Linked DNA regions of Homo sapiens. The protein of the gene in region 4 interacts with the protein of the main gene of each other region in a pairwise test. Each region holds a gene or a part of one and is shown on either strand. Other genes may lie near its edges. The genes, in order: GDE1, ANO8, TPCN2 and ADRA1A.

Region 1 (7,845 bases), on a different chromosome or scaffold from region 4:
GAGGAGAATGATAGTTACCAGAGGCTGGGAAGGGTTTGGGGTTGGGGGAAGAGGAGAATAAGGAGAATTTGGTTAATGAGTACAAACATACAGTTCGATAGAAGGTATAAATTCTAGTGTTCAATAACATAGTAAAGTGATTATAGTTAACAATCTGTTGTATATTTCAAAATAGCTAGGAGATTTAGATGTTCCTAACACAAAGAAATGATAAATATTTGGGGTGATGGACATCCTAAATACCCTGATTTTATCATTATACATTATGCGCATATCACAAAAATATGTCTAAGTGTATAGCAATAAAAATGTGGAAAAAAGAATATCTATAATTTGGTTCAAATTATTACAGTAGGACAGGCGCAGTGGCTCACACCTGTAATCCTAGCACTTTGGGAGGCCAAGGCAGGTAGATCACTTGAGGTCAGGAGTTCAAGACCAGCCTGGCCACCATGGTGAAACCCCGCCTCTACTAAAAACACAAAAAATTAGCCAGGCGTGGTGTCACACGCCTGTAGTCCTAGCTACTTGGGAGGCTGGGGCGGGAGAATTGCTTGAACCTGGGAGTTGGTAGTTCCAGTGAGCTGAGATTGCACCACTGCACTCCAGGCTGGGCAACAGAGCAAGACTCCGTCTCAAAAAAAAAAAAAAAAATCTTAAAGTAAAGTATCTTTGGACTTTGCTATGGTCGAAAAAAGGAAGTTGGAGAAAACACTCTTTCCTTTTGATTGAGAGACATATGCAAAATGTTTGTTGCAATACAGTTTATCTGTTTCTCTTTTTTCCTACAACGTATTTTCTCTTCTCTTACAGGAATGATTTCCCTGATGAAAAGATCCCTACCCTAAGGGAAGCTGTTGCAGAGTGCCTAAACCATAACCTCACAATCTTCTTTGATGTCAAAGGCCATGCACACAAGGTACAGTTTAAATTGTGGACTTCACTTTGTTAAAAAGACATCTTATTTCATTGACGGTCATTTCCGAAGTTACATATATTTTGTTATTTATTCTTTTTAAAACTTATTTTTATAAATTGTATTTGTTTAATGGAAGTGTACAATGCAGGAATCTATATCATTTAAGGAAACAGTGCATTATGGAACTTTTTAACCTTTTATGGAAACTTTACAAAACCAGCATAAAATGGAAGAGTCAAGTTTCTATTATTTACATAAAGCATTTACAAAAGATATTAAGTAAACAGTAAAAAAGACATTTCTAGAAAAAAACCACTGTAGTAACCTTGAGTTACTTGAAAAAAAGGAATTCCGAAGTTGTACACAAGACCAATTTTATCTAGCTTAAAAGTTAAGGGCCTTATATGGACAACTATGGACTGCATTTAAAGAGAATTCCTATATTAAAAGCTTCTAATAGTTAACAGAACATATACCTTTTACATAGATTTATCCCTTTGTATAATTTATATCCCTTATGTATAGTTTTTTATTCATTGATTTTAGCAGTTATACTTTTATCAGAAAATCATTTATTTTCTTCAAATGTATTTGACATTCCTAGATAAAATTTTGCTTAAATTTTAGGGCCTGCACTTACACTCATAAGAACATATTATTACAGTGAAAATCAGTGGGAAGATATGATTCTGATTACATTTGTTCTCTTATAACCAGCTTTTCAAGTGCAAGTACTTTTTTCCCCATTTGGGCAACTTGAGTATTTTTCCCCTAGCAATATTAATAATCGGTAAGGGCCATCTACTGGTTGAGAATTCTGATGATGCCAATTTTTTTTTTTAATTAATCCCATGATATCATTGAAACCAGTTGTTAAAACCCAAAATGGGCCGGGTGCAGTGGCTCACACCTGTAATCCCAGCACTTTGGGAGTGGATCACCTGAGGTCAGGAGTTCGAGACCAGCCTGGCCAACATGGTGAAACCCCTGTCTCCACTAAAAATACAAAAATTAGCTGGACTTGGTGGCGGGCACCTGTAATCCCAGCTACTCGGGAGGCTGAGGCAGGAGAATCGCTTGAACCGGGGAGACAGAGGTTGCACTGAGCCGAGATTGCGCCAGTAGTACTCCAGCCTGGGTGACAGAGCGAGACTCCGTCTCAAAAAAAAAAAAAAAACCTGAAATGTGGAGCCTAAGTATACACTCTAATTTTATTAACAGTTAATTCCTATTTTTGAAGAAGGAAGATAATGGTAACTAATTTATTATTCTAGTAAACCGATAGTTGTATACGTCTAGGTTTTCCAATTGGTCTGCGTTAGAATCACCTGTACCTATTTTAAAATATAAATTCCTGGGCCATTCTCCCTAGGGAAGAGATTCTGAAAATGTCTAGGGTGGGCTCAAGGAACATGTATTTTTAATGAGCACCTCAGGTGCTCATTGTTGATGTTGCAGCCCACATTTGGGAACCCTGATAGGTCCTACATTTCACCCATGGTATACTGACTTTTATGCTTATTCTCTTAGATTTTTTGAGACAGAGTCTCACTCTGTCACCTAGGCTGGAGTGCATTGGCGCGATCTCGGCTCAATGCAACCTCTGCCTCCGGGGTTCAAGCAATTCTCCTGCCTCAGCCTCCCAAGCAGCTGAGATTAGAGGCATGTGCCATCACACCCGGCTAATTTTTGTATATTTAGTAGAGATGGGGTTTTGCCATGTTGGCCAGGCTGGTCTCAAACTCCTGGCCTCGAGTGATCCGCCCACCTTGGCCTCCCAAAGTGCTGGGATTACAGGTGTGAGCCACCACGCCTGGCTTCTCTTAGAATACTTTTTAAAAAGAAGTAGACATTTAAAAAAGAAAATCTAGCTATTTGAGTCTTCTGAATGGGTGCTCATGGGTGTTCAGCCAAGACTGGGTAGAACATAGTGACCTAATTCACCAAGATGGTAGTAGAAAGGCACAAGTGTAGGCAACAAAGTGGAGCTAGTAGAGCACAGTGGCCAAAATCATGGGCTTGGGACTCCAACAGTCCTTGACTGAGCTCTTACTACAGGGTAACCTTAACTTTGATGAGCTTCAGTTTCTTCATGGGTAAAATGGGGATACTAAAAGCAGTTACCACATAAGGTTGTTGTGAGAATTAAATAATGTAAATGCTAAGAGTTTACAGTGCATGTCTTTGTTCAAACAGAAAAAAAAATGCTTTCTATAGCTTGCCTTCAGTTGCATTAGCGAAGAGGAGGCATGACATGGATAATTTGTGTCCTTTTTTATTTTGGTGGGGGAATGCATTTTGCTCATCATATTTGGTTAGGGGTATGTGTAACATTCCAAAAATTAGCAGTGTTTCACAAATTATGCAGCAGCAGCATTGCGTCCCACATGGCTGGTGACTTTCTTGTTGTTAGCTGCTATTGATGTCACTTCACTAGGGGTTACCAAATAATACTTAAATTCTATCATGTCTTCTTCATTTCGTAGCTAGACTACTATAAAAAGAAACTTCTGTTCACCTTGGGAAGAATTGGGAGCCCCTTAACTCTTCCCAGTCCCTCCTACCCTTGCCCCATTACTTCTCCCTCCATATTGGTGATGGGTAATGCGTCCTCTCAGTCCCCTGGACTGAGAAATCTATCCTCTGTAGTTCCCAGACTGGCTGGCTCATGTTTCATTTAGAAAAGGCACAGAGTGATAGAGCTGTGGGTATGAAAGGACTTTTCATAGTGGCTAAACTAGGGTATAAGGCAAGGAAAATTTTGCCTCTGGCCTCATCTGACCTACGGCTTACCACACTTTTCAAAAGTATTCCAAAAGGGGTGAGGCCCTCAGAGGGAGTAAAGCAGCAGTACTCCACCTTCTTCCTTGTTTGCTGCTGGTGTGAGTTTAAAATGCATCCCAGTGGATAATAGACTCTACCAATACTTTCAGTACCTCCATTTCTAGTAAACTTCTGTTTTATTCCATAGGGTTGTACTTAATATGTGATAGTTATTGGCTGGGGCTATCTATCACATTTTAATCAATTTTAAATATATGAATCTCTTTATTTTACAGGCTACTGAGGCTCTAAAGAAAATGTATATGGAATTTCCTCAACTGTATAATAATAGTGTGGTCTGTTCTTTCTTGCCAGAAGTTATCTACAAGGTAACATTCGGGATTTTTCTTGTACATATTAGGTGAGCTGGTGTAGATAATTGCAATGGGCTGCGTAAGCACAGGATAGATGCCTATTAAATTGAACTGCATCAGGGTCACAGTTGAGAAGCTCCTCTTTTAAATTAACCAGAGAAATTCCAGAAGGGGAATGTACTCATACCCCTTACAGAATGCCATTATTCCTCTTTTGCCCCTTCTTTTATGTTGTTTATAGGCTCACTCAGATTACTGTAGTAAAATTCTCACAACAGAAAAGAATTATGTAGCCCCTACTTCTCACCAACTAACAGCAGAACATACCTTCATAAAATAAATTCTTAATTATGGAGAATCTAAAACATGCATAAAATAAAGTAGTAGTGTACCCCCCCTTTAACTGTGATCCAGCTCATTTCACCCATAACCCCATTGATCCTCCCCAGTGTTATTTTGAAGCAAATCTTATTCCATCCATAAAATTGCATTAAGAATCTTTAAAAAGTGATGCCATTTTATTTATTTATTTATTTATTTATTTATTTATTTATTTATTTTAAAAGACGGGTTCTCCCTCAGTTTCCCAGGCTGGAGTGCAGTGGTGTGATCACAGCTCACTGCACTCTTGACCTTCCAGGCTCAAATGATCCTCCTGCCTCAGCCTTCCAAGTAGCTGGGACCACAGGCGCACGTCACCACGCCCAGCTAATTTTTTATTTTTATTTTTTGTAGAGACAGGGTCTCCCTGTATTACCCAGGCAGTTCTCCAACTCCTAAGCTCAAGCAATCCTTCCACCTCAGCCTCTCAAAGTGCTGGGATTACAGGCATGAGCCACAGTAACCAGCCTAGTGATGCCTTTTTAAAAACATAGCCACAATGCCATTGTCCCATCTAAAAATTATTAACAATAAATTATTCATATCATCAAATATCCAGTGTATAAATTTTGACTTGTCTCGGAAATGTCATAAATGGTTGTTTTTCATAAATTGCTCATTCGAATAGGACCCAAGTAAGATCGGCGTGTTACAATCGTAAATCTTTTTTTGTTTGTTTTTGAGACGGAGTCTTGCTCTGTCGCCCAGTGGTATGATCTCGGCTCATCGCAACCTCTGCCTCCCGGGTTCAAGCAATTCTCTTGCCTCAGCCTCCTGAGTAGCTGGGATTACAAGCACACACCACCATGCCTGGCTAATTTTTTTTGTATTTTAGTAGAGACGGGGTTTTGCCATGTTGGCCAGGCTGGTCTCGAGCTCCTGACCTCAGGTGATCTGCCTGCCTCGGCCTCCCAAAATGATTACAGGTGTGAGCCACTATGCCCTGCCGGCAACTGTAAATCTTAAAACTTGCAGGTTCTGTCTCTCTCTCTCTCTGTTTTTTTTGTTTGTTTGTTTTGGGGGGGGTCCTTGTTTTGTATTTACTGAAGAAACCGGATTATTGTTTTGTAGAGTTTACCCAAGTCCAAATTTTGCTGATTATGCCATGATATGGCTTAATATTTTTTTCTCTTTATTTTCTATAAACTGGTAGCGAGAGCTGGAAGCTTGCCTTGATGAGGTTAGGGTTGGTTATTCTTGGCAAGATAACTCTAGAGATGAGGGTGTTTTTCCGTCAGGAGGCACTTGACATCTGGTTGACTCCTGTTGTTTTTGGCTGCTATTGATGCTCATTGGCCAGATCTGTCCATTTTCTAGGGAGCTACAAAATGCTGATATTTTAATTCTATTACTTCTTGCATTAGCTGAAATAGATCTTTAAAAAGAAACTTTTCCTCCTCTACTATTTAGTTACCAAATAGGCAGAATAAATGCTTTATCTTTCCTTTTATTTACCAGTTTCCAGAATAACAAGCTGGTTCCGTAGCATTCTTTACCAGTGACCAACAGAGCATACATTGAAAATTTTTACAGTGAGGATAGAGCCTATCAATAGAAGCTGTCATGGAGTTGAATAGGGTCATGGGGCTTGCAGACATTTGGAACAGTGTTTCCCAAACTTCCTTGACCACAGAGTCCTTTAAAACGTATAAGACATTCCCCCAGAGGAGCACAAGAGCAGAGACTAAAGGAACTCCATCCACATCTCTCCATTTCTCTGTTGTCCTCTCCCATTCTCTCGTCACAATCCCTTCTCTCCCTTCCCACCTCACTTCCCCATCCCCCTCCTCACCCCTACAACTCTTCAGCCATTTGCTCTGGAAAGGGTCAAAACTAAACAGCCCATCTTGAACTGACCTTGGTTCCCTCCTCATTGAGTTCTAATTAATTATCTCTGGCCAGGATTTAAGTCAATAGCCAATTAAAAGTTTATTCTCATGACATTATTAAAATTTGATCCTGAAGTTTTAATTTTTCCATTTTAAAGATAGGATTGCAGTTTTTAAGGACTGGGAAAAAAAAGTTCTCATATGTGCTGCATATTAGTGCTTTACATTCTTCACATTATTTTCTCAAAGGGTTTATGATTGAGAACTTATTTAGTAGATACCGGGGCAGGGTACCAACCATGACCACCTCATCTGATTGAGCACATTGGCTAAATCTAAACTAATAAGTATTCAACTTTACATATGATCATTATTTTACTTCCCCAAATTCCTTTGCAGATGAGACAAACAGATCGGGATGTAATAACAGCATTAACTCACAGACCTTGGAGCCTAAGCCATACAGGAGATGGGAAACCACGCTATGATACTTTCTGGAAACATTTTATATTTGTTATGATGGACATTTTGCTCGATTGGAGCATGCATAATATCTTGTGGTACCTGTGTGGAATTTCAGCTTTCCTCATGCAAAAGGATTTTGTATCCCCGTAAGTTGGAAGGTTTTTTATTTTACCCAGACAGACATCCTGAATGCTCTTATTTGAAAGGAAGGATTAACAGAGTAGACAACCTGAATTGGTTCTGACCTGCAAAGCTTACCATACCTCTAAATTGGATTACCAATTTCGCTTCTTAGGTGGGAAGAGTTCAGGCATATTTCACTGTTTTCAGACCGAGTCGATCACATATTTTCGGTTTTTTAGTGTATTTTGAAGAAAAAAAATGAACCTGTGACACTATGCTGAGCAAGGGATTTTATTTCTGTGACTGGTTTTTTTGAAAGCCAACACAGGATCCTGGGCAGAACCACAGTGAAGACATCCTGTGGGCACCAGCCTCCCCACTACCGTCTTATGTTATAGGCACTCCCCCACCTCTCCCCATAAAATTTCCATTTCCTAACCTGCTAGCGATCTCGGAATCATTTCTTTGGCAATTCTGTATCTGTATATTTCAGCTAATTAGAGTTGTAGGTCTAGTATTATTTCAGACATACATGATTCAGTTCAATAAATATTTGGTAAGTGCCTATACTATTGCAAGGTTCCATGTTGAGAAGCTGAAGATGCAGTGGGTAAAGAATCAAAGCCATGATCTCTGCCCTCGTGACGTTTATAGCCAAGTGGGAGAGTGAGAGATGCTAATCAAATAAAAATCCAATCAATATAAAGTTAAAACTAAGATACAGGCTATGTCAGAGAAAACTGTGCATGGGCTATAATCTAATCTGGTCTGGGTTGTCAGAAACAGCATCCCCAAGGAAGTGACAGTTAAGCTAAGATCTGAAGGGTGAGTGGGAATTGGGAGGAATCCAGATCAGAGAGAAAAATACATGTAATGTGCTCTGGCAGGAAGGAACATGGTTCTTTCCAGGAAGTGAAAGAAAATTAATATTCTTTCAATTAATTTAAAATTAATCAGCACAGAAAAGAAAGGGGGAATGTGGTGTGAGATG
Region 2 (7,845 bases), on a different chromosome or scaffold from region 4:
GGAGTTCGAGACCAGCCTGGACAAAATGGCAAAACCCTGTCTCTACCAAAAATATAAAAATTAGCTGAGCATGGTGGCACACGCCTGTAATTCCAGCTACTCGGAAGGCTGAGGCAGGAGAATCGCTTGAACCCGGGAGACGGAGGTTGCAGTGAGCTGAGATTGTGCCATTGCACTCCAGCCTGGGGACAAAGCGAGACTGTCTCAAAAAAGAGAAAAAGAAAAAAAGCGTATTGGGCGCCAGCTTCATCTCTGGGCCCACACTGAGGTTCTCTGGGGAACTGGAGAGAGATTCCGAGGCTTATTGGGTGCAACTGAATGAATCCCTGGACCCACGCCGGTACTTTCTGGGAATTGAAAAGAAAACAAACATTCACTGGCCATCAACTCTGTCCCCGGCTGTGTGCCAGACAGCGTCTTAGGAATTGGTAAAGTGGAAACCAATCCTGAGCCTCAACCGATCCCCTGCTTCCCAGAGAACAGGCAAGAGACAGAACCGTGGCTGCAGGCTGGGTACGGTGGCTCACGCCTATAATCCCAGCACTTTGGGAGGTGGGCAGATTGCTTGAGGTTAGGAGTTGGAGACCAGCCTGGCCAACATGGTGAAACCCCATCTCTATTAAAAATAGAAAAATTAGCCAGGCGTGGTGGGACATGCCTGTAATCCCAGCTATTTGGGAGGCATGAGAATTGCTTAAACCTGGGAGGTGGAGATTGCGGTGAGCCGAGATTGTGCCACTGCACTCCATGCACTCCAGCCTGGATGACAGAGTGAGAGAGATTCTGTCTCAAAGAAAAAACAAAAACAAAAACAAAAAGGACTATGGCTGCAGCAGACTATACCCAGGTAGCCACGCGAGGCTCTGTTCAATAAAATAAAAATTCAGTTTCTCGGTCGCAGCAGCTGCACTTCAACGTGCTCACTTATCACCTGTAGCTAAAGGCTGCAGGGACAGTGCAGACAAAGGACATTGTCATCCTCGAGGAATGTTCCCTGTGCAGGCACTGGGGAGCTCCTTGGCCCATTCTGTAGCTTTCTGAGGAATGCGGAAGAAGCTGCGCTTCTAGGAAGCCTCCGCTGTGTCCCTGGCCCCCTAACAGGATGCAATCGGGCAAGCTGGTGGATGGCTGAAGGTTCTGAAGGGCCAGCCTCGTGCTGGATGCTGCCAGGATTCCAGAAGCGACTGGACCCGTTGTGAACACTAGTTATTATTGCTTATTATTACTCTTTTTAGAGACAGGGTCTTGCTCCATCACCCAGGCTGGAGTGCAGTGGCGCAATCATAGCTAGCTGCAGCCTCAAACTCCTGGGCTCAAGCGATCCTCCCACTTTGGCCTCCCAAAGCGCTGGGATCATAGGAGTGAGCCACTGCACCCAGCCAGGGAGCACTAATTATTATACCCAGCTCTGTGCAGTCTCTGCATTTGCCCTTACGCTAAGGAATTGGCCACCAAGATCAGAGATCCACCAGCAGCCCCACCAATGAGAAAACCGAGCCCAGCCTGGCCCCCCTACCTTAAAGGCCTCGCGGCGCTGGTACTCCAGCTTGGCCATTTCCTCGGCCACCCAGCCCGGGATATCGGGGATGGCCACGTGGATGAGGTACTTGAGGAGCAGAGCGAAGTGCTGCAGGGGTGGCAGAGAGGAGGCTGCAGGCTGCAGACGCTGGGGCCGCCCTCTCGCCTCCCAGCTGCCCCCGCCCCTGTCGCCGGCCCCACCTCGAGCACTACCACCGACACGATGGCTGCCTCCGGGCTCAGCCAGGGGAAGAGGCGCTGCAGCTGCCCGCACTGGCCGATTAAGTAGCAGTTGACCACAATCGCTAGGACACCCATGGCCTCCATCACCTTCTGCAGGGCGGCAGGAGGGCTCAGGCGGGGTCCAGCCGGCCTCCCCAGACCCCAGGCTCCTCCCAGCTGCACCTGGGCTCCCTCTGGGCCTCAGCTCGGATCTCTTGGCTTCCCCCCACCTGCCACTGGCCGATGCTTTCCACGCGCTGGCCGAAGGGCCGCTGCAGCCCGGTGCACAGCTTGAAGGCGTCGCTGCGGATCTCAATGAGGTTGTTGACCAGGGCGCACAGCGCCGCCAGGGGGAAGGCGGACGAGAAGAGCACAACGTAGCCGAACTGCACGAACATCTCCTGGTAGTCCTGGAACGTGTCCTGCGAGTGGGCGGGCCTCAGACCTGGAAGCCTCTTCCCTGGGACAATCTTTCTCCCATTGAGCCCGCCTCCCTCAGATTATCCCATGTGGACCCAGGGCCTGTCCCCATCCTCAGCCAGCCCAGAGGCTTCCTGTATCTGGCTAGGCCTTCCTCTCCTGCAGCATCCCAACATCAATGGCCCTGTTATCACCACTCCCACCCCCACGGCCTTCACCCTCGGACGGTGTGTCCCGTCCCCGGCGAGGCCCCGCCCCCTGCGAGGCCCCGCCCCCTCCTCACCTCGTACTTCTTCATACAGCTCTCCAGCTCTGCCTGGGTGAGCTGGGGCGAGTGTTCCTCCTCCGGCGGGTCAATCCAAGACGACCGGTTCTGCCGTCTCTGCCTACGGGTCGAATCGCTGTTGGAGCCGGGTTCCGGGTCCGGGCCCCCGTCGGGCCCCTGGTCTCGGCCCTCGCCCCCGGCCCGGCGGAACAAGATGGCCGGGGGCTCCCGTTCAGGGCTGCCGGGAGCCCCCTCCGCCTCGTCGTCCTCCTCGGCCAGGGTGAACACTCCCGGCTCCAGCCCCTTCTCCACCATAGTGGGGCTCCCTTCCTCCAGGAGGGCCTCCGGGCTTGGGCCGGGCCGACGCCGCCCCGCGCCGCGCTCAGCGAAGCTGACCTTCTTCAGCCGGAGCCCGCAGTCCAGGAGGCCCCCTTCCTCGCCCTCCTCCTCGTCCTCCTCTTCCTCCTCGTCCTCCTCCTCCTCGTCGTCCTCGTCCTCCTCCTTGCCCCCTGGAGGCCCGTCCCCCTCCTCCCCGCCTTCCCCCGCCCGCCGCCGCTCCACCAGCGCCGCCTCCTCCTCCTCCTCCGGCGCCCCGCAGCCCCCGCTGAGGCACCTGCGGCCCCCGCCCCCGCTGCCGCCGCCCCCGCCCTCATCCGCCTGGGGTTCGAGGCGGCGGGGCGCAGGGCGCCGGAGGCTCAGGAGGCCAAGCAGGGCTCGGGCCAGCTCCCAGACGGCCCGCAGGCCCAGCTCGCCGCGGCCCAGGCGCCGGTACAGGTGCGGCTGCAGGACCTCGCGCACGTTCTGGAGGAACTGGCGGGTGATCAGCAGCGTGGCCAGCATCTGGGGGCAGGAAGGGGAAGGAGAGAGGCGCGTGGGGGGCAAGCGGGGCGCCGGGATCGGGGGACTCACCCTCCCTGGGCGCCCCGCCGGAGCACCGTGCCCAGACACACGCCGAATCCGGTTCCTAACTCCGCTGCTTTGGACGCGCCTCGACGCGAGGCCCCCAGCGCTCAGCCACAAAATACAGCCTGGCACGCGCAGCGCTCCTCGCCCACCTCACGGGCAGGCCCAGCGCGTCTCCACCCCACCGCGGGCTCTGTCGGTGCACTGGGCCGCGTGCGCCCCCAGCCGCCTGCACCTGCTTGCTGGCCGCCCCCGACCCCAGATTCCCTCCGCGCATGCGCCCTCAGCTCGGCGCGCCAGGCCCCCAGCACAGCCACGCTGCCCACCCCGGCGAGGACCCACGGGCTCGCCACCTGCCCGTACTTTGGCCCGGGCCGCGAGCAGGAGGCCCCGGAGGGAGAGGAGGAGCAGGCGGAACCGCAGGGCCGCGAGCGGGACCAGCACCGCCTGCAGCTGCCGCTCGAGGCTCTGGGACAGGGACAGGACGAGCAGGAGCTGTGAAGGGACCGACGGACAGATGGACGGACAGATGGGGGGACGACAGGCAGAGAGAGGACGCACAGACGACGGACAACGGACGGACAGACAGGAGAGAAGGATGGAGGAGGGGAGGGAGGGGCTGGAGAGCCCTTGGACCCCTTGTGCCGGGTCTGGCCCCTCGCTGGCCGCCATGGGGGCAGGGGGGACTGCCGCTGGGGCGGGGGTCTCACCTCTTTCAAGCGCTCCATGTCCTTGAGGTAGAAACCGATGTAGAAGAGGCTCAGGTACGAGTTGACAAACTGGAACTGCAGGAAGGAGGCAGGCGGTGGTCATCCTGCACCCCCACCCGACTCCTTGGAGCCTTCCTTGTGCCCCATACAGACGGCACAGCTTCCCCGTTGTCCCCCTGCCTGTCCGATGGTGGTGACTCACCAGGACAACTTTGATGATGAGGTGCTTCTCATAGGCGCTCTCCAGCCGGTAATTTTCTAGGGGCCAAGGGGGGGAGTGAGGGGGCAGCCGCGGTCCCCCCAAGGGTGGCAGGGATCCCAAGGGGCAGTGGAGACCTTCCTCCCAGAGACCCCCTGGCAGGTCGTACCCATGTCATTGAGCCAGATGGCTAGCTTCTTGTAGCCCTCGGCACTCACACTGACAAGCAGGGCCAGCATGACCTTAGGCAGGAATCGGGCGAGACGGGGCAACCCCTTCACGCTCAGCACCAGCTCCTGCGGGAGAAGGGGGTTCAGGGCTCATCCCAGCTGCAGGGCTCAGCCCAAGGTGGAGCTAGGTACCAAGGACAGGGCGGGTGAGGGTATGGGGGGTCACCTGCAGCTGGAAGCAGCCAAGCATGAGCAAGAAGACACAGACGAGGCACGCCAGGCACAGGGGGAGGCTCACAAGCAGCTGGAAGAGCAGCCGCTTCCAGGGCGGGTAGTAGAACTCCTCGGCCCGCGTGATGGGGCTGATACGTCGCACGCCCTGATGGTGGGCAAAGACCGGGCCCAGCATGAGCTCAGAGGGGCCACCTCTGCCTTCTGCACCCCTCCCTATCCTCAGAACTCAATTTCCCTCCATCATGCGGAGGTGACCCTCTCAGGTCACCCACCTAGGGCACTGTTCCCAGTCCCTCAAATCCAACTTCCACCTCTCCCCCTGGGGAGCACACAGAGCCCGCCTCGGTTTGGCATACCCTCTTTGATGAAACAATCCTGTTTCACACCTCTCTGCCTTTGCTCCTGCAGTGCCCCCCACCATTTACCTTTGTCCTGTCTCCATGACCCTGGACTCAGCCCCCAACTGACCCTGAACTGGGGGCGTGGCTCCTCCACGGCTTCCCCAGGTGAGTCCAGCGTCCCCCACTTATATGCCAGCTCAGCCCCTCTCCGCTTCCATTCCTCTAGGAACAGCGTCGACCAGATCACGTTGAAGAGGGCAAAGACCACGCAGGAAACATCCCGGCTTGTCTGTGAGTGGCAGAGAAGAGTTGAGTCATTGTTTGTGCCAGTCCAGAAAGGAGGGCGCCTCTGGATCCCCCAGACCTTGCAGGGTCCCTGCCCAGTACCTGATCAGCCTCTGTGAATGTGTACAGGACAGACCCGAAGACAGCTGGGTATACCATAGCCGACGTGTAGAAGCCCAGCCAGGCGAAGTACATGGCAATTTTCACACCAAAGTAATCACAGATGTCATCTGCCAGGGGACAAGTGGGTCTCAGTCACCCCCTGCCTGTCTGCTGGGACTCCCTCCCACCCCCCAGCCCAGGCAGCACCTAGAGGCTGGTTTTCACACACGGCCTGCACCCATGACTTCATGAGGCGGTTCAGAATACGCTGCTCGTGGACAGGGAACACCTGCTGGATGATCCCACGTGCTGCCAGCTCCGGGACTGTGGAGGGAGGAGCACAGGTGATCCCCGCCCCTCCACCTGTGCCTAGCCTGGCTAGCCCCTCTTTGTCTGAAACCCAAGTCACAGCTTTTTGCCTGCTCTTAAACCTCTAGAGCTCTTTCCAGGGGAGAAGTTCTAGACGGATAGAAGATCTGATTCTCCTTCAGAAATTGTAGGTGCAGGGGCAGGCGGGGAGAATGTAAAGGAACTGGGAGAGTGGGGTTCTGGTGAGGAACCATGTTTTTTTTTTTTTTTGAGACAGTCTCACTCTGTCGCCCAGGCTGGAGTGCAGTGGCGTGATCTCCGCTCACCGCAACCTTCAAGCGATTATCGTGCCTCAGCCTCCGGAGTAGCTGGGATTATAGGCGCCCACCACCACGCCCAGCTAATTTTTGTATTTTAGTAGAGACGGGGTTTCGCCATGTTGGCCAGGCTGGTCTCAAACTCCTGACCTCAAGTGATCCACCTGCCTCGGCCTCTCAAAGTGCTGAGATTACAGGTGTGAGCCACCGCGCCCGGCTTTTTTTTTTTTTTTTTTTTTTTAGACGGGGTCTAGCTGTGTCACCAGGCTGGAGTGCAGTAGTGCGATCTCAGCTCACTGCAACCTCTGCCTCCCGGGTTCAAGCGATTCTCCTGCCTCAGCCTCCCGAGTAGCTGGGACTACAGGCGCGCGCCAACCACACTTGGCTAATTTTTGTATTTTTAGTAGAGATGGGGGTTTCACCATGTTGGCCAGGATGGTCTCGATCTCCTGACCTCGTGATACGCCCGCCTCAGCCTCCCAAAGTGCTGAGATTACAGGCGTCAGCCACCGCGCCCGGCCTTATTTTTTACTTTATTTATTTATTTGTTTGAGACAGGGTCTCGCTCTGTCACCCAGGCTGGACAGAATGCAGTGGCGCTACCATGGCTCACTGCAACCTCGAACTCCTGGGCTCAAGTGATGCTACCGCCTGGACCTCCCAAAGTACTGGGAGCCACTGCGCCTGTTCCCCTGCTTTAAATAAAGCTCAGTTTGTGGACCCGAACGTCTGAGGAATGGTAAAAACTTGCTGTCGGAAGGTGAACTTGGGTGCCTAGTTTCCTGGAGGGGAATCCAACGCCCAGAGCCGCACCACTCTGTAAGTGGAGTGCTGTCCATGGTTCCTGCCTCCACTTTATCCCAAACCCAGAAAAGGGCCTCTCCTGGACCCACCTCCCAGAAATAAGCCCCACCCTTTGGCCAAAGCCTCGCCCCCTCAGCTCATTGGTTCCCAACCCTTTGCCAACCCCTAACTGGTTGGACATAAGCCCTGACCTCCTGTCCTGATAAGCTGTCCTCTCAGAGCTCCACCCAACTCAGGAGATAAGCTCCACCCTTTTGCTAAGGCCACACCCCTTTAGCTCATTGGTTTCCTAACTCTTTGCCAACCCCTGACTGGTTGGATCTGGGCCCCGCCCTCCTGCTCCTATAAGCTGTCTTTGAAGAGCTCCACCCAACTCTCTGCCTGTGATTGGTGTTGACCCCGCCCTGCTCACTGATTGGCTGGTCCTCCAGGAAGCGCACGTTGTGGAGTGCTTCTCCCTGCTTGGCACGCAAATTCTGCAGCCAGAAGCGGATGATGCTCTGGCGTTCCTGCGAGGAAGAGGGCGTGAGCTCAGGGAACTCATAGGCACAGGATGCATGCGGGGGCCCAGAGCCGGCCTCACCTGGGAGGTGAAGAAGCGTAGCTCGCTCTCCACATTCTCATAGATAAAGTCCTCCTCGCAGGAGAAGCCGCGGGTGCCCCCGCCAAACTCGGCCTTCACTGCTTTGCGCAGACCCAGCTCGTCGGCCCCTCGGAGTAGGCTGTGAAGAAGGCGGAGGAGGTGGGCTCACAGGGAGGCCCCGGCCCACCATCCTGGAGCTGAGGATGGTGCACCTGGCAGCCTTTGGGACAAACGCAGGGCGGCTGGATAGCATGGTTGGCACTTGGTAGAGCGGGGAGTCGGGTGGCAGGCTCAGCGAGAGGCCAGGGACAGGGGACTCGCCTCTCATACGTGGCGGTGACAAAGAAGGCGTAGGCACGCGTGTGGCGGTGGTGGCGGACTTGCACGATGAGCTCGGGAATGCCCACGCGGATGTGGTTCAGCAGCCATAGCAGCGTGTGGTCATCGGTCGTGTCTGCCAAGG
Region 3 (7,845 bases), on a different chromosome or scaffold from region 4:
GTGTGTTGGGGGCGCCCCCAGCTCCCCCTCAAGAGGGTTTAGGGTCTGCTGTCCTGGGAGTTGCCATCTCTGGCAGTGGCTAGAGCAACAACACATGTGCATCCCCGGCTGATCCACAAGAGGTGGCAACCCTGCCCTCCCGTCCCACCAGGGGCCTGGCCAGCAAGGGTCACCCAGCTGCTCATCTCAAGCCACACCCTGCTTGGCCTCCCGGCAGCTCCAGGCACAGCCAGCATTGGGGAGCTCGCTCACCATCAGGTAGCCCCGGAACTGACTGTAGATGATGGCTGTCAGCAGGTTCATCAGAAACAGGCTTCCTTCAAGAGGAGACAGCCACGGTCAGGGGCGCCACCAGTACAGCAGCAAAACCAACGCAAGGGTGGCCGGCACAGGATAGCACAGCGCCGGGGGCGTCCCCTATCAAATGGAAACATGGCCTGGCCAGCGCAGTCACAGGTGGGAGGATGACGAGGTCAATGGTGGGGACAGAACAGAAAGTGTGGGGTGGGGGATCCCTGGGGTGAAGCTGTTGGTGGGGGATCCCTGGGGTGAAGCTGTTGGTGGGGGATCCCTGGGGTGAAGCCGTGGCATGGGGGATCCCTGGGGTGAAGCTGTTGGTGGGGGATCCCTGGGGTGAAGCTGTTGGTGGGGGATCCCCGGGGTGAAGCTGTTGGTGGGGGATCCCTGGGGTGAACCTGTTGGCGGGGGATCCCTGGGGTGAAGCCGTGGGGTGGGGGATCCCTGGGGTGAAGCTGTTGGTGAGGGATCCCTGGGGTGAAGCTGTTGGTGGGGGATCCCTGGGGTGAAGCTGTTGGTGAGGGATCCCTGGGGTGAAGCTGCTGGTGGGAGATCCCTGGGGTGAAGCTGTTGGTGGGGGATCCCTCGGGTGAAGCTGTTGGTGGGGGATCTCTGGGGTGAAGCTGTTGGTGGGGGATCCCTGGGGTGAACCTGTTGGCGGGAGATCCCTGGGGTGAAGCCGTGGGGTGGGGGATCCCTCGGGTGAAGCTGTTGGTGGGGGATCTCTGGGGTTAAAAGCTGTTGGCAGGGGATCCCTGGGGTGATCTCTGGAGTGAAAAACACGGATGTGAAGTTTCAGGTCGTGGAGGCAGCAGGGTGTATCGGTCCCTGAGCTCTCGGGATCCTGTCACAAAATGCTGGCCACGTTACCTGCACTCACCTATCACAGTGAAGACTATGAAGAAGATGGCATAGGCCCGGTTCTTGGAATACGCAGGAATCATCACTAAAAGAAAAAAGAAATAACAGAAACTGACAACCTCAGTACCTGATCCCACTCCCATCCTGACGCTACACTATTTGCTTTTGCAATAGAAAGGAGGTCTCCATTGCTGAGCGTGGTGGCTCACGCCTGTAATCCCAGCACTTTGGGAGGCTGAGGCGGGTGGATCACTTGAGGTCAGGAATTCCGAGACCAGCCTGGCCAACATAGTAAAACTCCATCTCTACTAAAAATACAAAAATTAGCCAGGTGTGGTGGCTCATGCCTGTAAACCCAGCTACTCGGGAGGCTGAGGCAGGAGAATCACTTGAACCTGGGAGGTGGAGGTTGCAGTGAACCGAGACTGCACCACTGCACTCCAGTCTGGGTGACAGAGCATGGCACCATCTCAAACAAAAAAAAAAAAGAAAGAAAGAAAAAAAGAAAGAAAAGGAAAAAAAAGAAAGGAGGTCTCCTGGGAGGGCTGAAAGGCCTTCCTGTCCAAATTCGATCTCTTGCCTCTGCTCGCACACCCTCCAGGACGGGGAACTCCCTACCTATCAAGGATGTCCCTCTGCACACAGAGCTGAAACCTCCCTGCAGCCCTCCCCACAGTCAGTCCTGCTCCCCCTGCAGTCACTTCCTAGGACTCAGACGGTCCTGCTCCCAGTGCGGTCACTTCCTAGGACTCAGACGGTCCTGCTCCCAGTGCGGTCACTTCCTAGGACTCAGACGGTCCTGCTCCCAGTGCGGTCACTTCCTAGGACTCAGACGGTCCTGCTCCCACTGCGGTCACTTCCTAGGACTCAGACGGTCCTGCTCCCACTGCGGTCACTTCCTAGGACTCAGACGGTCCTGCTCCCAGTGCGGTCACTTCCTAGGACTCAGACGGTCCTGCTCCCAGTGCGGTCACTTCCTAGGACTCAGACGGTCCTGCTCCCACTGCGGTAACTTCCTAGGACTCAGACGGTCCTGCTCCCAGTGCGGTCACTTCCTAGGACTCAGACGGTCCTGCTCCCACTGCGGTCACTTCCTAGGACTCAGACGGTCCTGCTCCCACTGCGGTCACTTCCTAGGACTCAGACGGCCCTGCTCCCACTGCGGTAACTTCCTAGGACTCAGATGGTCCTGCTCCCACTGCGGTCACTTCCTAGGACTCAGACGGTCCTGCTCCCAGTGCGGTCACTTCCTAGGACTCAGACGGTCCTGCTCCCACTGCGGTCACTTCCTAGGACTCAGACGGTCCTGCTCCCCCTGTGTCACTTGCTAGGACTCAGACAGTCCTGCTCCCACTGCGGTCACTTCCTAGGACTCAGACAGTCCTGCTCCCACTGCGGTCACTTCCTAGGACTCAGATAGTCCTGCTCCCCCTGTGGTCACTTCCTAGGACTCAGACAGTCCTGCTCCCACTGCGGTCACTTCCTAGGACTCAGACAGTCCTGCTCCCACTGCGGTCACTTCCTAGGACTCAGACAGTCCTGCTCCCAGTGCGGTAACTTCCTAGGACTCAGACGGTCCTGCTCCCAGTGCGGTCACTTCCTAGGACTCAGACGGTCCTGCTCCCAGTGCGGTCACTTCCTAGGACTCAGACGGTCCTGCTCCCAGTGCGGTCACTTCCTAGGACTCAGACGGTCCTGCTCCCACTGCGGTCACTTCCTAGGACTCAGACGGTCCTGCTCCCCCTGTGGTCACTTCCTAGGACTCAGACGGTCCTGCTCCCACTGCGGTCACTTCCTAGGACTCAGACGGTCCTGCTCCCACTGCGGTCACTTCCTAGGACTCAGACGGTCCTGTTCCCACTGCGGTCACTTCCTAGGACTCAGACGGTCCTGCTCCCACTGCGGTCACTTCCTAGGACTCAGACGGTCCTGCTCCCACTGCGGTCACTTCCTAGGACTCAGACGGTCCTGCTCCCAGTGCGGTCACTTCCTAGGACTCAGACGGTCCTGCTCCCACTGCGGTCACTTCCTAGGACTCAGACGGTCCTGCTCCCACTGCGGTCACTTCCTAGGACTCAGACGGTCCTGCTCCCAGTGCGGTCACTTCCTAGGACTCAGACGGTCCTGCTCCCACTGCGGTCACTTCCTAGGACTCAGACGGTCCTGCTCCCAGTGCGGTCACTTCCTAGGACTCAGACGGCCCTGCTCCCAGTGCGGTCACTTCCTAGGACTCAGACGGTCCTGCTCCCACTGCGGTCACTTCCTAGGACTCAGAGGACACAAGAGACAGCACTCAGGGTCCGCAAGATGAAAGGCACCAGCCAGGGTGGCTGGGCCACAGCCAAGCCCAGGACCGTGGCCTCCATCCTGGCCACACCTGCACCTGAGCAGTGGAGGCCCCATGAGCATCACACAGGGTGAGCGTCGTGGCCAGTAAGACCCTTGGCCCTCACATGCTGCTGCCCAGTGGCTCCCACAGCTGAACCTCGGCAGCAACCGCAGCGTGGATGTGTGGAGCTCCAGCAGGACGGCACCAGGAGACCCCTCTGACCACTGCCATCATCGCCCTATGAAGAACACCAGCCACTTTCAGCTTCTCAGAGGAGTGAGTAGACAAGGAGGAAGAGGAGATGAAAAGAAAAAGGGAGGAGGGAGTGAGAAAGCAAAGGAATGAGACAGAAAAGGAAAGAAGGAAAGAGAAGGGACAAGAGAGAGGGAGAAGAAAACCAAGACAAAAAAAGAAGAGATAGGAAAAGAAGGGGAGGAAGGAAAATGTCACCCTTTCTTCTCCACTTATCGAAAAAAAGGCCTCAGAAACTCCCACTGGGTTCTAAGGCTCAGCAGCCCAAACCGGCCCCCCAGTGCTGGGCTCACCGACCCCCACGGTCCCTCCCTGGCCCTGCACGCACCATCGGGGTTGTTGGCCGTGGTCAGCAGCACCAGGAGGGAAGTCAGAGACTCAGGCAGGTTCTGGAAGTAGGTCAGCCTCTCCCTGTCCTGCCCATCATCCTGCTAAGAGCAGAAGCGGCAGCTCCAGGGCACCACTGGGTCCCCACCCCACAGGCTGAGCTCCAGGCCCCGGACCCAACCGGCTGGAACCATCCACCCGCCGCCCAGCCTGCATCTCCCTGTGGCCTCCCAGCAGGCTGAGCTCATGGCCAGACAGGACCAAACTCAGGATCTCCGGGCGCAAGAGTGGGCACCCAGGGAGACCGCTCACCCGCATGGACACGGTGCCTGGAAGCAGGCCGGCTCAGAACCACAGCAAAAAGCCCTCAGCCAGCCTAGTGACCTCCCTCAGGCCACCTCGCCTGCTCGCAGCCGACTCTGCCATGCACTGTGCAAGCAGTGAGGCTACGGGGCAGAGGCAGGAGGGGCAGGAGGAGCAGAGGGGCCCAGGCTGCCAGGGTGAGATAGGTTGGACCCTTCGTGAAGCCTGCTCTAGAGGCTGTGTGTCAGGGCCCACGGCCGCCCATAGCCACCCACGGGACTCAGTGGCACTGTGCTCGTGGCTGTGGCGAATCACAGCCATTGGTAAGGGGGCATCCACACCGGAGTCCCTATCCTCTCTCCCTCCTGAGAGGGGTCCCAGCCACAAAACACAGCTGGCACATGCAGTGTTTCTGCTCGGAAAGCAACTCTGCTTGAGACTCCGGGCCCGGGGCTCTCACTGGGGCCAGGCTCATGGGCACCCTCTGCCTACCAAGCCTCCAGACCCCCCAGCTGGAAGATGGGTGGTTCCCGCAAACCAGACTGGTTGTATGAACTGTGGGGGCAGGTGGCACAGCGGGACTTGGCACACAAAGCAACCTCCTCTCTTAGGGATCGTTTCAAAGCCACAATCCCAGCTGCTGGCCAAGGGGCAACCCCGCAGGCAGGCCCTGGCATGGAGGCACCTGTGATGGCCACTCTCTGTCGCACAGGCCGCCCTTCCTGCCTCACAGCCGCATCAATAGCACTGAGGCCTCCAAGGCCTCACCTATAAAATGGCACTGTCCCCTCGTCTGTCCAGTCAGGGGCTCCCAAGGACACGTGAGCTAATTGGTGAAGACTCCACAGTCTGCTGGGGGAGGGGGCACAGGGGCCACTGAGAGGAAGTTAGAAGGCAGGGAGCGCTGTCAGGCACAGAGCCACGGGTAGGGACAGGCTCCCCTGCTGGGGAGAGCTAGGCGGGCCCCTCCTGGGCCTCAGCCCAAGCCAGAGTGGAGGAGCAGAGCAAGGCCTTCCGAGGCCTGGAGGGCAGGCTGGCCTCCAGCAGTCACCGGGGACGGCAGGACCACAGCACTGGGTCCAGGCCTCCCGGGCATCCCCCGTCCCACCCTCACCCAGTCAAACCACCACGTTCCCAAATGTAAAGCAACCCACCGAGCGCCCATGGAGCAAGGTTTAGGGCCAGGCTTCGAGCCAGCTGAGGCACACCACCTAACAGACGCTGAGGTCCATAGAGCCGACAGAACTCCCTAAGGCAGGTGGCCCTGCCCCGGCCCATCTCCCACCCCACACTGTGTACCTCCCAGCAGGCCTCACGCTCCTCCTCTACAATTCAGCTCCAGACCCTAGGCATGACTTCCCGTACCTCCTGCCCAGCCCAAGCCACAGCTCTGCAGGGACACAGAGGAGCCCTGGGCTCCTGCCCAACCTGCCACAACCAGCGACGATGGACCCGAGCCAGCCCACAGCCCCGACCTGAGAAACATCTGTAAAATGGGACAGCACCATCACGGCTGCTGGGAGACCACACACCCCAACACCAACCCTGGTTCTTGGAAATCAATCCAGGTTGGAGCTTCACAACGAGCAAAGCCAGCAGAGGACAAGCAGGCTGGCTCTGGACCGCACTCACAAAGGTAGCTAAAGCAAGGCGGCCGCTGCACCCAGAAGCACAGCCTGGCTACCGCCCCAGGCCAGGGTGGCAGGGCATGATGGCCAGGGAAGGAAGGCAGGATGGGCCGGGTACCATCCCACGCTCCTCTCAAGTCCTGCCTCGGACAGGGATCCAGACTCCTGCCAAGACCACGACAAGCACGCACCCCTCACACAAGGTACACCTTGCTCCCCTAGGTCCCCTTCGTGGGGCAGAAACCCACGCCTGGAGGAGGAGCCAACCCTTCCAGGTGCCTCAGGATGGGACACTCGGCTTTCCCGGGGTCGAGGACCACACCCTGGCCTCAAGGCCGAGGCTGTTGCCACTTCCAGCACCCACACTGACGCCATCCACCTGGTACAGGCTCTGGCAAACAGCGCTACTGCAGGGGTCACTGGACGGTCACACAGAGGAGGGCCTGAGATTCTGTCAGCCGGTTCCATCTCCACAACCCAGCTGCCCCCACCACCCACAGACAGGCACACAAACACACACATACACACAGAGATACGCACACACATGCACACGCACACAGCCATACAGACACCACGCACGCAGAGACATACAGACACCATGCATGCACACATAGACACACCACACACACGACACCACACGCACACACAGACATACAGACACCATGCACACAGACACCACACACGCACACAGACATACAGACACCATGCACAGACACTACACATGCACACATACAAACACACACACAGACATACAGACACCATGCACACAGACACTACACATGCACACATACAAACACGCACACAGACATAAACACCATACACCTACACATACAAACAAACATGCACACAGACATGCAGACTCCACACACACATGCAGAGCCACACAGGGGCTCAATGACCGCTTCCGCCCTGGGTGAGAACGCGGGCTTCAGCCTTCCCCTTCTGGACAACACACACCAAACCCCAACACGGCCACAAACAGGAACAGCAGCGCAGGCTGAGCACTGTCCACTCCCACAACAAAGCAGCAGAGATGCAGCGTGGCCCCAGCCCCAAGAAGGATGGTGCCCTCGGCCAGGACAGGAGGACAAACACATAGCACTGGAGCGGGGTTGGGGGACAGGAAGACGCCTCCACACAGCAACGAGCTGCTGGGCCCCGGGGCAGCCGCAGAGGAGGATATGGTGGGAGAGACTAGTGGCAGGAGAGGGCGTGGGAGGTGAGGGCCCTCCCAGTAGGCCAGCGCAGCCTTGGGGGCTGCAGTCAGAGAGGGTACAGGGCAAGCCTGGTTGTCAGGAAGGATGAACAGGGCTGGAGGAGAAACCAGAGGACCCACCCTCAGTGAATAGCCTGGCGGGGAAGGGCGGGGAGGGGCGGGGGATAGGGAGGGGGGAGGGAAGTGGGAAGGAGGATAGGGGAACTGAGTCAGGATGGGAGGGAGCAGAGGAGGGTGGGAGCGGACAGCCAGGACAAAGGACAAGTGGCCCTGAGCCCAGGAGACCCCAGGGCAGACAGGTGTCTGGGCAGTGGGGTGGTGGAGCACTGTGGCCACCCAAAGGCAGACTCCTGGACCCCAGATGGGCCACTGCTATTACTGGACAGAGTCCGCACATGGGTTAGGCCAGGGCAGCAGACACCAGCCCAGCCCCCTCTGTTAGTCACAGCACAGGGCAGCCCCATTCCCAGACCCTGACCACGGGTGCCCTACCTTCCCACCAGCGAACAGCAGCATTCCGAACATGGTGAAGAGGCACAGGTGGATGGCCAGCAGCAGCCCGACGCTGGGGGAGAGCACGGCACTCAGCCTGGGCCAGGCGGCGGGCAGGCAGGGACACCTGACCTGCCTGC
Region 4 (7,845 bases):
GCAAACCACAATGGCACATGTACACCTATGTAACAAACCTGCATATTCTGCACTTGTATCCCAGAACTTAAAGAAAAAAATAAGAAAAGAAAAGAAACATTCAAATAGCGAAGAAATAGAAAACATAAAAATGAAAAGCCACTAGGCAAGTGTCAAACTGGCAAACCAAATAGCAGGGCTAAAATACAGTAAACTTGTTAGACAAAGAAAATGCCTTAGAAAACTGTCCTCATATCCACCATGAAACCATGAGGTGACAGAACACAGCAATGACTTTGTTACTAAGTGACTAAGGATTATTACTCCATCCAAGTAATAACTCACTTGTCTATAGCCTGACTTGAAAGAGTCAGCTATTGTTCAAAGCATTGTTAGAGCTCATTGTTGATGTCTTCTGAGCCTGCAGCACGTTCTTTTGAAAATGATGGTAAATCTTCATTGACAGATTTGTCTTGTGGAAAGAGCCAAAATTAATTTAAAGCCAAGTCTGGTTATACTATTTCTGATCACGAGAAAGCTTTTCTCATAAATCTAAGCTCTGAAGGCAGTGACAAAAGAGGCATTCCAGAACGATGTGGCAGCTCACGGAAATAAGTTTTTTAAATGGCACGGTAGAAGGATTGCACTTGGCAGGATACAGCTCCCCTTGTCCTGCATAAAGGTCTCCCAACTGGTCTATCCACAATCTTGTTTTCACTAAGCCTTTGATAATCTTGAAATGCTGTATAAACTCTATCATGTCATTCCTGCTCATCTTTGGATAAAAACACAAACTTGTATAATGGCTATAAAGCCTTGTTTAGTCTGGTTCTTCCCTTTCCAGCTTCACTGGACACCAGTTATCTCTTGGCCTCTTGTTTCTGGCCACAGTGGCCTTCTAGAAAGTCATTATGGACATTAAGCCAGCCCCACTAAAGTCTTCGCACGTTCTCTTCCCTCCCTCCCCATTTTTGCCTTTAAACACCTACTCATTCAATAGATCTGGACTTAATAGTCAAGCCCTCCTTCCCAGAAAGACCTTTCTACCCTCCCAGTCCAGGACCACCCTTAGCCACAGGACATATTTTCAAGGCACCATTTATGTTCCCTTCATTGCTCTGTACACGGTTTTCGATAACTTAGTGTGGCTATCTGATTAATGTCTATCTCCTTCTGGAGATTAGAAGCCTGCAGGGAGGCAAAGATCCCAGTTGGTTTTACTCAGTGCATTGCATGAAGCCTGGCATATGGGAAGTTCTCAATATAACTGATGGATTAAAGAGAAATGTAATTTGGCACACTTGTGAGGTCGGTGATCTGCAAGAGGACTACAATGATCTGCCCCTCTGTGTACACACTTGCTGCTCTCCCATCAAGAGATGAGTCTGTCTCGCTTCCCCTTGAACCTAGGCTGGTCTCCTGACTTGCTGTGACTGCAGAATGAAACAGCAGTGATGCTGGACCAGGTGTGAGCCTAGCTCTTCAAAGGCCTCACAGTTTCTGCCTTGACTTTCTTGGGGGAGAGCTGCCATGCTATAAGAAGGTGGTTTAGAAGGGAACAGAGGCCACCAAGACTCACAGCCAGCTTCAATTGCCAGGCAAGCTGGGTGCTGACGTACTTTTGACCATAGAATCATGAGACATAGATGGCTGCTGCTTTAAGCCACTACCTTTTGGGATGGTCTGTGGTGTAGTAAGAGTAACTGAAACGCTGGCTTCTTATCTTAAAATAAATTCTAGCCAGGTGTGGTGACTCATGCCTCTAATCTCAATGTTTTGGGAGGCTAAAGAAAAAGGATTGCTTGAGGTCAGGAGCTCAAGACCAGCCTGGACAACACAGCAAGATCCCATTTCTATAAAAATAAAATATAAAAATTAGCCAGGCATGGTGGTGCATGCCTGTAGTCCCAGCTACTCAGAAGGCTGAGGTGGGAGAATCACTTGAGTTCGAGGCCGCAGTGAGCTATGATTACCACTGAACTCCAGTCTGGGTGAAAGAATGAGATCCTGTCATTAAATAAATAAATAAAATAAAATAAATCCTAATGGCACTAGTTTTTCTTCACACCATTATCTCTAAGAGGTGAACCTTTTCCATGAGAACTAGGGAACTGCTCCCTTTGTACCTGCAGTGAAGCAACCCTCAACCCCTGGTTATCTTGGGCATCCGCAGAGGGTTTGGGATTATCATATATCATTGTATGTACTTGTCCTTTTTCCTTGTCATTTTTCATATACCTTTGCTAGGTATCTAATTGTTCAGATGTTCTGCTCCATTAGGGCAGGGATTTATTTGTCTTTATCTCCAGTGATTCTATAGCTTCCTGGCAAACAGTATATGTTCAATGAAACTGCTGAATGAATGAATGAATCATTCTCTGCCTCATTGCCTCCACCTGATAAATCCACTGCCAGCTGTGCCCTCCTCAAACATCCAATCTTAAAACACATTTTTCTGCTCTATCAATGTGCTGCCTCCTGTTCTTTTATAAACATAATCCTCAAATATTCTATGTCTATGTAAGCCACATCTCAGCCCAATGCTGCCTCCTTTGATTCAGTGGCAACAGCAATCAATGGCTTAGGTCCTATAATAACGCTGGGTTTTGTGTTTAAATCAGATAACATATCCAGAATTCAGACACGTAACTATGTTTTCAGTGATTGTTGCCTTTTCATCTTCTTTCCAATGCTTTCTATTTCTTAGAATGCCAAGGACATCCACCCCTCATGGCAACATCTGCATGTTGACATACATCAGTAATGGTCTGTGAATCATTTGAATTCTGGTAAGATGAACATTTATTACCATTTACTCTGAGTTAGGCACTATGCTGGGCAGCTGACCTATATAACATCCCCTGTTATATGAAAAAGAAAGCCTAGGTTTAAATCTCAGGCCAACAGTTTCTCCATTCAGCAGCACACTGCCTCTGGAACTAGTGGGCTCTAGACAATGAGATGAAATCAACAAAGATGATTCATAGGCTTTAGATGCTGGAGCTTCCTGAGAAGCAGAGTTCTTATCCTTCCTTCTCTTTCGTAGGTTGAAGGCTGACACCGTCATAGTCTCTCTACTCATCTCCATGGCCAAAATTTGCTTTTGAAAGCATTTGCTCCAAAGTATAAATGACTGTTAACAACTGCACATGGCACCCCCCTCCCTTGAAGGCATTCTGAATTTCAACCAAACATTTAGGATGCAAAAATGGAACAAGATTAGCAAGATTTAGACTTGGAAGCAGGCAAGTCAGATTCCTCCCAACAGTCATGCTATTCAATGCAGCAAGCAACCCAGCCTTAGTGGAAAGAAGCTTGGGAAAAGGGAACGTGAGACTTCTCACAATATACAGGAAGGACCTTTGCAGTCAAATAGCCTACTCACCTGATTTTCCTGGGTCAGTCCCTATTAAACATGGGTGTTTCACTTCTCAGCTGTGGATAGCACACTCATCCCTGCCCTGGTTTCAGTTTTTAATCTCTTTCCTCTCCCGCAGCCTAGTGCAGACCGACAGCCCTTTTCTCCAAAACAGCACGTCATATTTAAGAATGTATGTCCCTTGAATATAATAATATGATAGTATATTTATTCTTCTGCTCACATTTTGCATGAAAAACATACTTAAGACAGTTAATAAAAAAACATATAACATCTCGTTGACGACCCAGCAGAAGTAGTGCCATCTTCTTTAAGTCTCTGCTCTGTCAATGGTCATGCATGTAGAAGCTTCTCAGTGACCTCTCGGCACAATGAACTGCTATATTCCTTAGCACACTGTAATAATATCATTCTGAGCACCATCCTGAGCACCATGTAATAATATCACTCTGAGCACCTATGTCATAGACTTGCAATAATTGTTGACAATTTGTCTCCTTAACTAGACTGTGAGGCCCTTGAGGGCACTGTGTTTTATTCATCTTTTTTATTCTGTGTAGCTGAGAGCCTGGTGCTTATTACATAGCCAGTACATTCTTGGAGGAAATCATCTCTTACTCAATTGGTGTCAGGAAGAAATTGAGAGCCACAGACTGGCAGGTTCAGGGATCCTTTGCACTACTGAGCAGCTACTCAGACCCTGTGAACTGTATGTTCCCTACTTCCCTCCTGTCATATCATTTTTCTTTTTTTTTTTTTTTTAGACAGAATCTCGCTCTGTCACCCAGGCTGGAGTGCAGTGGTGTGACTCAGCTCACTGCAACCTCTGTCTCCCGGGTTCAAGCGATTCTCCAGCCTCAGCCTACCAGGTAGCTGGTATTACAGGCGTGCACCACCATGCCCAGCTAATTTTTGTGTTTTTAGTAAAGACAGGGTTTCACCATGTTGGCCAGGCTGGTCTCGAACTCCTGACCTCAAGTGATCCGCCTGCTCAGCCTCCCAAAGTGCTGGGATTAGAGGCATGAGCCACCGCGCCTGGCACCTCACTAGGATTTAAAAGAAGCCCAGTGATTCCGAGGGCTCCTGTCTACCACCACTTCTCTCCACCACAACATCTTCTCCTCCACACTGCTGACTCCCTGGGAGAGCAAATCCAAGAGCGGGCTATGACTAGTCAGAGCATCCACCTCCCCTAGATGACTCCAGGACCCAGGCCATTGTTTCTCATCTCTATGCATAGCTCAGCCACCACTGCAAGCTCCAAACTCTCAGGCCACCCATCGTCACCTGGGCTCCTTCTACAACCTGGCTGTGGATGCTCCCTAACCTGACCGAGTCTGTGTCTCTTCACACACACACTCTCTGGGACTCACAGTAGGTCCTCAGCATTGCCTCCTGTATCCCTCAGCTGCTTAGCTCTTAGAGAAAAACACACAACCCTCCTTCCCGCTGTACTTTAATGTTATGACCGTAAATCTCAGATAGGCCTTCAGGACTTCCCAGTGACTCTACCAAACTTCCATAAAATGTTTACTGTCCCACTCTCAAAGATGAATCTTTCACACCTTCTCTGAGGCTAAAACTGCCATCGTTCCCCATTCCTGACTCTCTCTTAGCTGATGACCTTGCTTCATATTTCACTGAGGACATAAACATATCCTAAAGAGATCACTATCTCTCTCCCTCTGTCTCTACTTGCCTCAGGGCTCACACACTTTGCTCTCCTTGTCACTTCCCAATGCTCCCCTTGGGCACTGAATCCCGTTGCCTCTTTTGCCTATCCCATCAGTGCCTCTCTCTATCCCATCGTTCCCATCAGAATATAAATATCATGTCATATCCCCACCTCCCACCATTGAAAGCTCTCTCTATACCCCTCCAGCTACACCGCATCTCCTAGCTCCAGTGTATAGCAAAACCTTTCAGAAGAGTTGTCTATTTTCCCTGTTCCCACTTTTTTTATCCTTTGTTCTTTCTAGAAAGTACACAATCAGGCTTTTGGTTCCATCACTCCTCTGGACCTGTGAGCCTCACGTGCCTTCCTCCTATCACTAAAAACCTGCTTACTGCCAAATCTAGTGTTGGCTCCCAGTCCTCCTCTAACCTGACCTCTCAGCTGCATGTGACACAGCTGATTACTCCTGCCTTCTTGAAACATTTTCACTAGGCTTCCAGGACATCACATTCTCCTGATTTTTCTTCTCCCTGGCTACTCCTTTGCAATCTTGTTTGCTGGCTGTTTCTCCTGTTTTTCCTGACCTGACCCCCAGAGGCTCTGTTTTTTTTTTTTTTTTTTTTAGATGGAGCCTCGCTCTGCACCCAGGCTGGAGTGCAGGCATGATCTCGGCTCACTGCAACCTCTGCCTCCCGGGTTCAAGCGATTCTCCTGCCTCAGCCTCCCAAATAGCTGGGACTAAAGGTGCAGAGGCTCTGTTCTTATCTCTCTTTACTCTCTTTATCTTTTCTCTTGTCAACCTCTCCATTCTTGTAGCTTTAAAGATGTTGATATATCCCAAGTTTATATCTGTAGCCCGCCTCCTCTCTAAGCTCCAAATCTATGTAAAGTGTATAACTCCCTACTTGCCATCTCTACTTCCATGTCTAATGAATGTTTCTCAACACAGTGATACAAAAGAAAGGCTCATACTTCTCACTCCCTGCAGCCCCTTGCAGCCACATAACTCTTTGGTTTTGCCAGTTTTAGTGAAGTGCATTACTATTTACTCAGCTATTCAGGCCCTAAACCTACCTATTTCTCACACCCTTGTCCACACTCATCAACTTTACCTGTAAAATAAGTGCTGAATGTGATCACGTCTTACCACCTCTACCTGTCTCACCTGAGTCCAAGATGTCATGACCTCTCTCCCCTCGACTTCTAATAGCCTTTTAACTAGTCTCTGCTTCTGCTCTTGCCCCCAAACAGCCAATTTTCCCCCCAACAACCAGAATGATCCTTCAAAAATATAAATGAGACTGGCCACTCACCTGCTAAACACCCTTGAATGACTTCCCACCACAATTAGAATAATATGCAAACTTTACTTTGGCCTGAAAGACCCCATATGACTTTGGTGTTGTCTATCTCTCCAATCTCTTCTTGAACTTGACTGCCCCCTCCCTGTCTGTAGTTGAGCCATACTGGCCTCTGTGATCTTCATTGAACAGGTCAGGCTCTTTCCCATCTCTGTACTCGCTGCTCCCTCTGCCCAGGAAGCTCTTCTTCCCAGATCTTGCAAGCTTTGCTCTTCAGTCCAGTCAGGACTCTGCTCAAATATCACCTCTTTAGACAGAATTTTCCCCACTACCCACTAAAGCAGGCCCTCATTGTCTTTGTCACTTTCTAGCCTCTCATCCTGTTGATTTTTTGATAGTGCATGTTAATCTTGACATTTTAGGATACAATCATTTGCTTATGTCTACCCTTTCCAAATACAACCGTCTCATTGGCAAGGACTTTTCTGCCCTGTTCATCCAAAGTGCCTAGAACAGATGGTCCATAAATACTTGTTGAGCGAGCACACGCATGAATACGTGTGCAAAGGGGCTCAGGTAAAGAGTGTAATTTCTATAATTTCAAAGCTGTGATGTACTTCCAGGAGCAGAGTAAGTAATAATGATGGGCAGGCACAATGGAAGGCCAGGTATTGGATTAAGGAGGGCCTCTCTGGCAGCCCTACAGGACAGACATTTCTGCAATGATAGAAATGACCTATATCTCTGCTGTCTAAAACAGTAGTCACTGGCCACGTGTGACTATGGAGCACTTGAGATGTGGTCAGTGGGACTGAGGAATTGAGGAACTGAAAGAATTTTATTTAATTTCAATTAACATTTAAATAGCTATCCTTGGCTGGTGGCTATGGTATTAGAACCTGAAGAATCCCTTCCCATGGCTTGTGATTGCAGGATAATTGTGTATAACTCACTGAGTTGTCGAGGGGACTAATGAAATAAAAAGCTTAGGAAAATGTCTGGAACATAAGTGGCACAAAAAAATAATAGTTGCTATTATTCCACAGAGTTGCAAATTAAAGTACTTTAAGTATATGCCATTTAAATTAGGCTGTAAAGCACTTGAAATGGACTTTTATTAATGTTAGGCATAATGTTTTGTTTTTTAGAGTTGGTGGATAATCGATGTTTGGGTCTGTATTTGAGCTTACAAACTAAAAATAGCACACAACCATTTTGGGATCTCATTGAAGGAGATAGATGTCTATTCCAAGTGGATCAGCTTGCTGATACTTATAATGAGCTAATTAATTTTGACAACAGCTAATTTAGCATCTGCAAAAATTGGATTTGTAACATTATGTGTACTGTATTATTTTCAAACAGTGTTATCTGCAACTTCCCGGATGATTTTGGATAAGAGAAGTGTTTGTTTTAATACTTATTATTAAAATAAAAAAATAAGTATTTACTTATTGGAAATACTATGATTAATTATTTAAGGCTTAAATTGGTTTGGACATAAAATCATT

Evidence for each region.
Region 1: the proteins of ADRA1A (region 4) and GDE1 interact in a two-hybrid assay, tested with the Homo sapiens proteins (one large-scale study listed by BioGRID and IntAct).
Region 2: the proteins of ADRA1A (region 4) and ANO8 interact in a two-hybrid assay, tested with the Homo sapiens proteins (one large-scale study listed by BioGRID and IntAct).
Region 3: the proteins of ADRA1A (region 4) and TPCN2 interact in a two-hybrid assay, tested with the Homo sapiens proteins (one large-scale study listed by BioGRID and IntAct).

What each region holds. Positions count from the first base shown.
Region 1 is NC_000016.10:19,503,913-19,511,757, reverse strand, and holds part of GDE1 (glycerophosphodiester phosphodiesterase 1), read left to right. Parts: intron 1-813; coding exon 814-919; intron 920-3,978; coding exon 3,979-4,071; exon of another isoform or gene 4,072-4,103; intron 4,104-6,665; coding exon 6,666-6,877; intron 6,878-7,845. UniProt on the Homo sapiens protein: Hydrolyzes the phosphodiester bond of glycerophosphodiesters such as glycerophosphoinositol (GroPIns) and glycerophosphoethanolamine (GroPEth), to yield a glycerol phosphate and an alcohol.
Region 2 is NC_000019.10:17,325,719-17,333,563, forward strand, and holds part of ANO8 (anoctamin-8), read right to left. Parts: intron 7,837-7,845; coding exon 7,704-7,836; intron 7,522-7,703; coding exon 7,383-7,521; intron 7,309-7,382; coding exon 7,212-7,308; intron 5,694-7,211; coding exon 5,577-5,693; intron 5,498-5,576; coding exon 5,370-5,497; intron 5,272-5,369; coding exon 5,110-5,271; intron 4,787-5,109; coding exon 4,634-4,786; intron 4,534-4,633; coding exon 4,407-4,533; intron 4,297-4,406; coding exon 4,241-4,296; intron 4,114-4,240; coding exon 4,039-4,113; intron 3,266-4,038; coding exon 2,444-3,265; intron 2,163-2,443; coding exon 1,971-2,162; intron 1,852-1,970; coding exon 1,720-1,851; intron 1,628-1,719; coding exon 1,517-1,627; intron 1-1,516. UniProt on the Homo sapiens protein: Does not exhibit calcium-activated chloride channel (CaCC) activity.
Region 3 is NC_000011.10:69,063,828-69,071,672, reverse strand, and holds part of TPCN2 (two pore channel protein 2), read right to left. Parts: intron 7,779-7,845; coding exon 7,706-7,778; intron 4,171-7,705; coding exon 4,068-4,170; intron 1,244-4,067; coding exon 1,178-1,243; intron 318-1,177; coding exon 253-317; intron 1-252. UniProt on the Homo sapiens protein: Intracellular channel initially characterized as a non-selective Ca(2+)-permeable channel activated by NAADP (nicotinic acid adenine dinucleotide phosphate), it is also a highly-selective Na(+) channel activated directly by PI(3,5)P2 (phosphatidylinositol 3,5-bisphosphate).
Region 4 is NC_000008.11:26,855,668-26,863,512, forward strand, and holds part of ADRA1A (alpha-1A adrenergic receptor), read right to left. Parts: intron 3,539-7,845; exon of another isoform or gene 3,365-3,538; intron 3,116-3,364; exon of another isoform or gene 3,026-3,115; intron 2,769-3,025; exon of another isoform or gene 2,687-2,768; intron 1-2,686. UniProt on the Homo sapiens protein: This alpha-adrenergic receptor mediates its action by association with G proteins that activate a phosphatidylinositol-calcium second messenger system. Its effect is mediated by G(q) and G(11) proteins.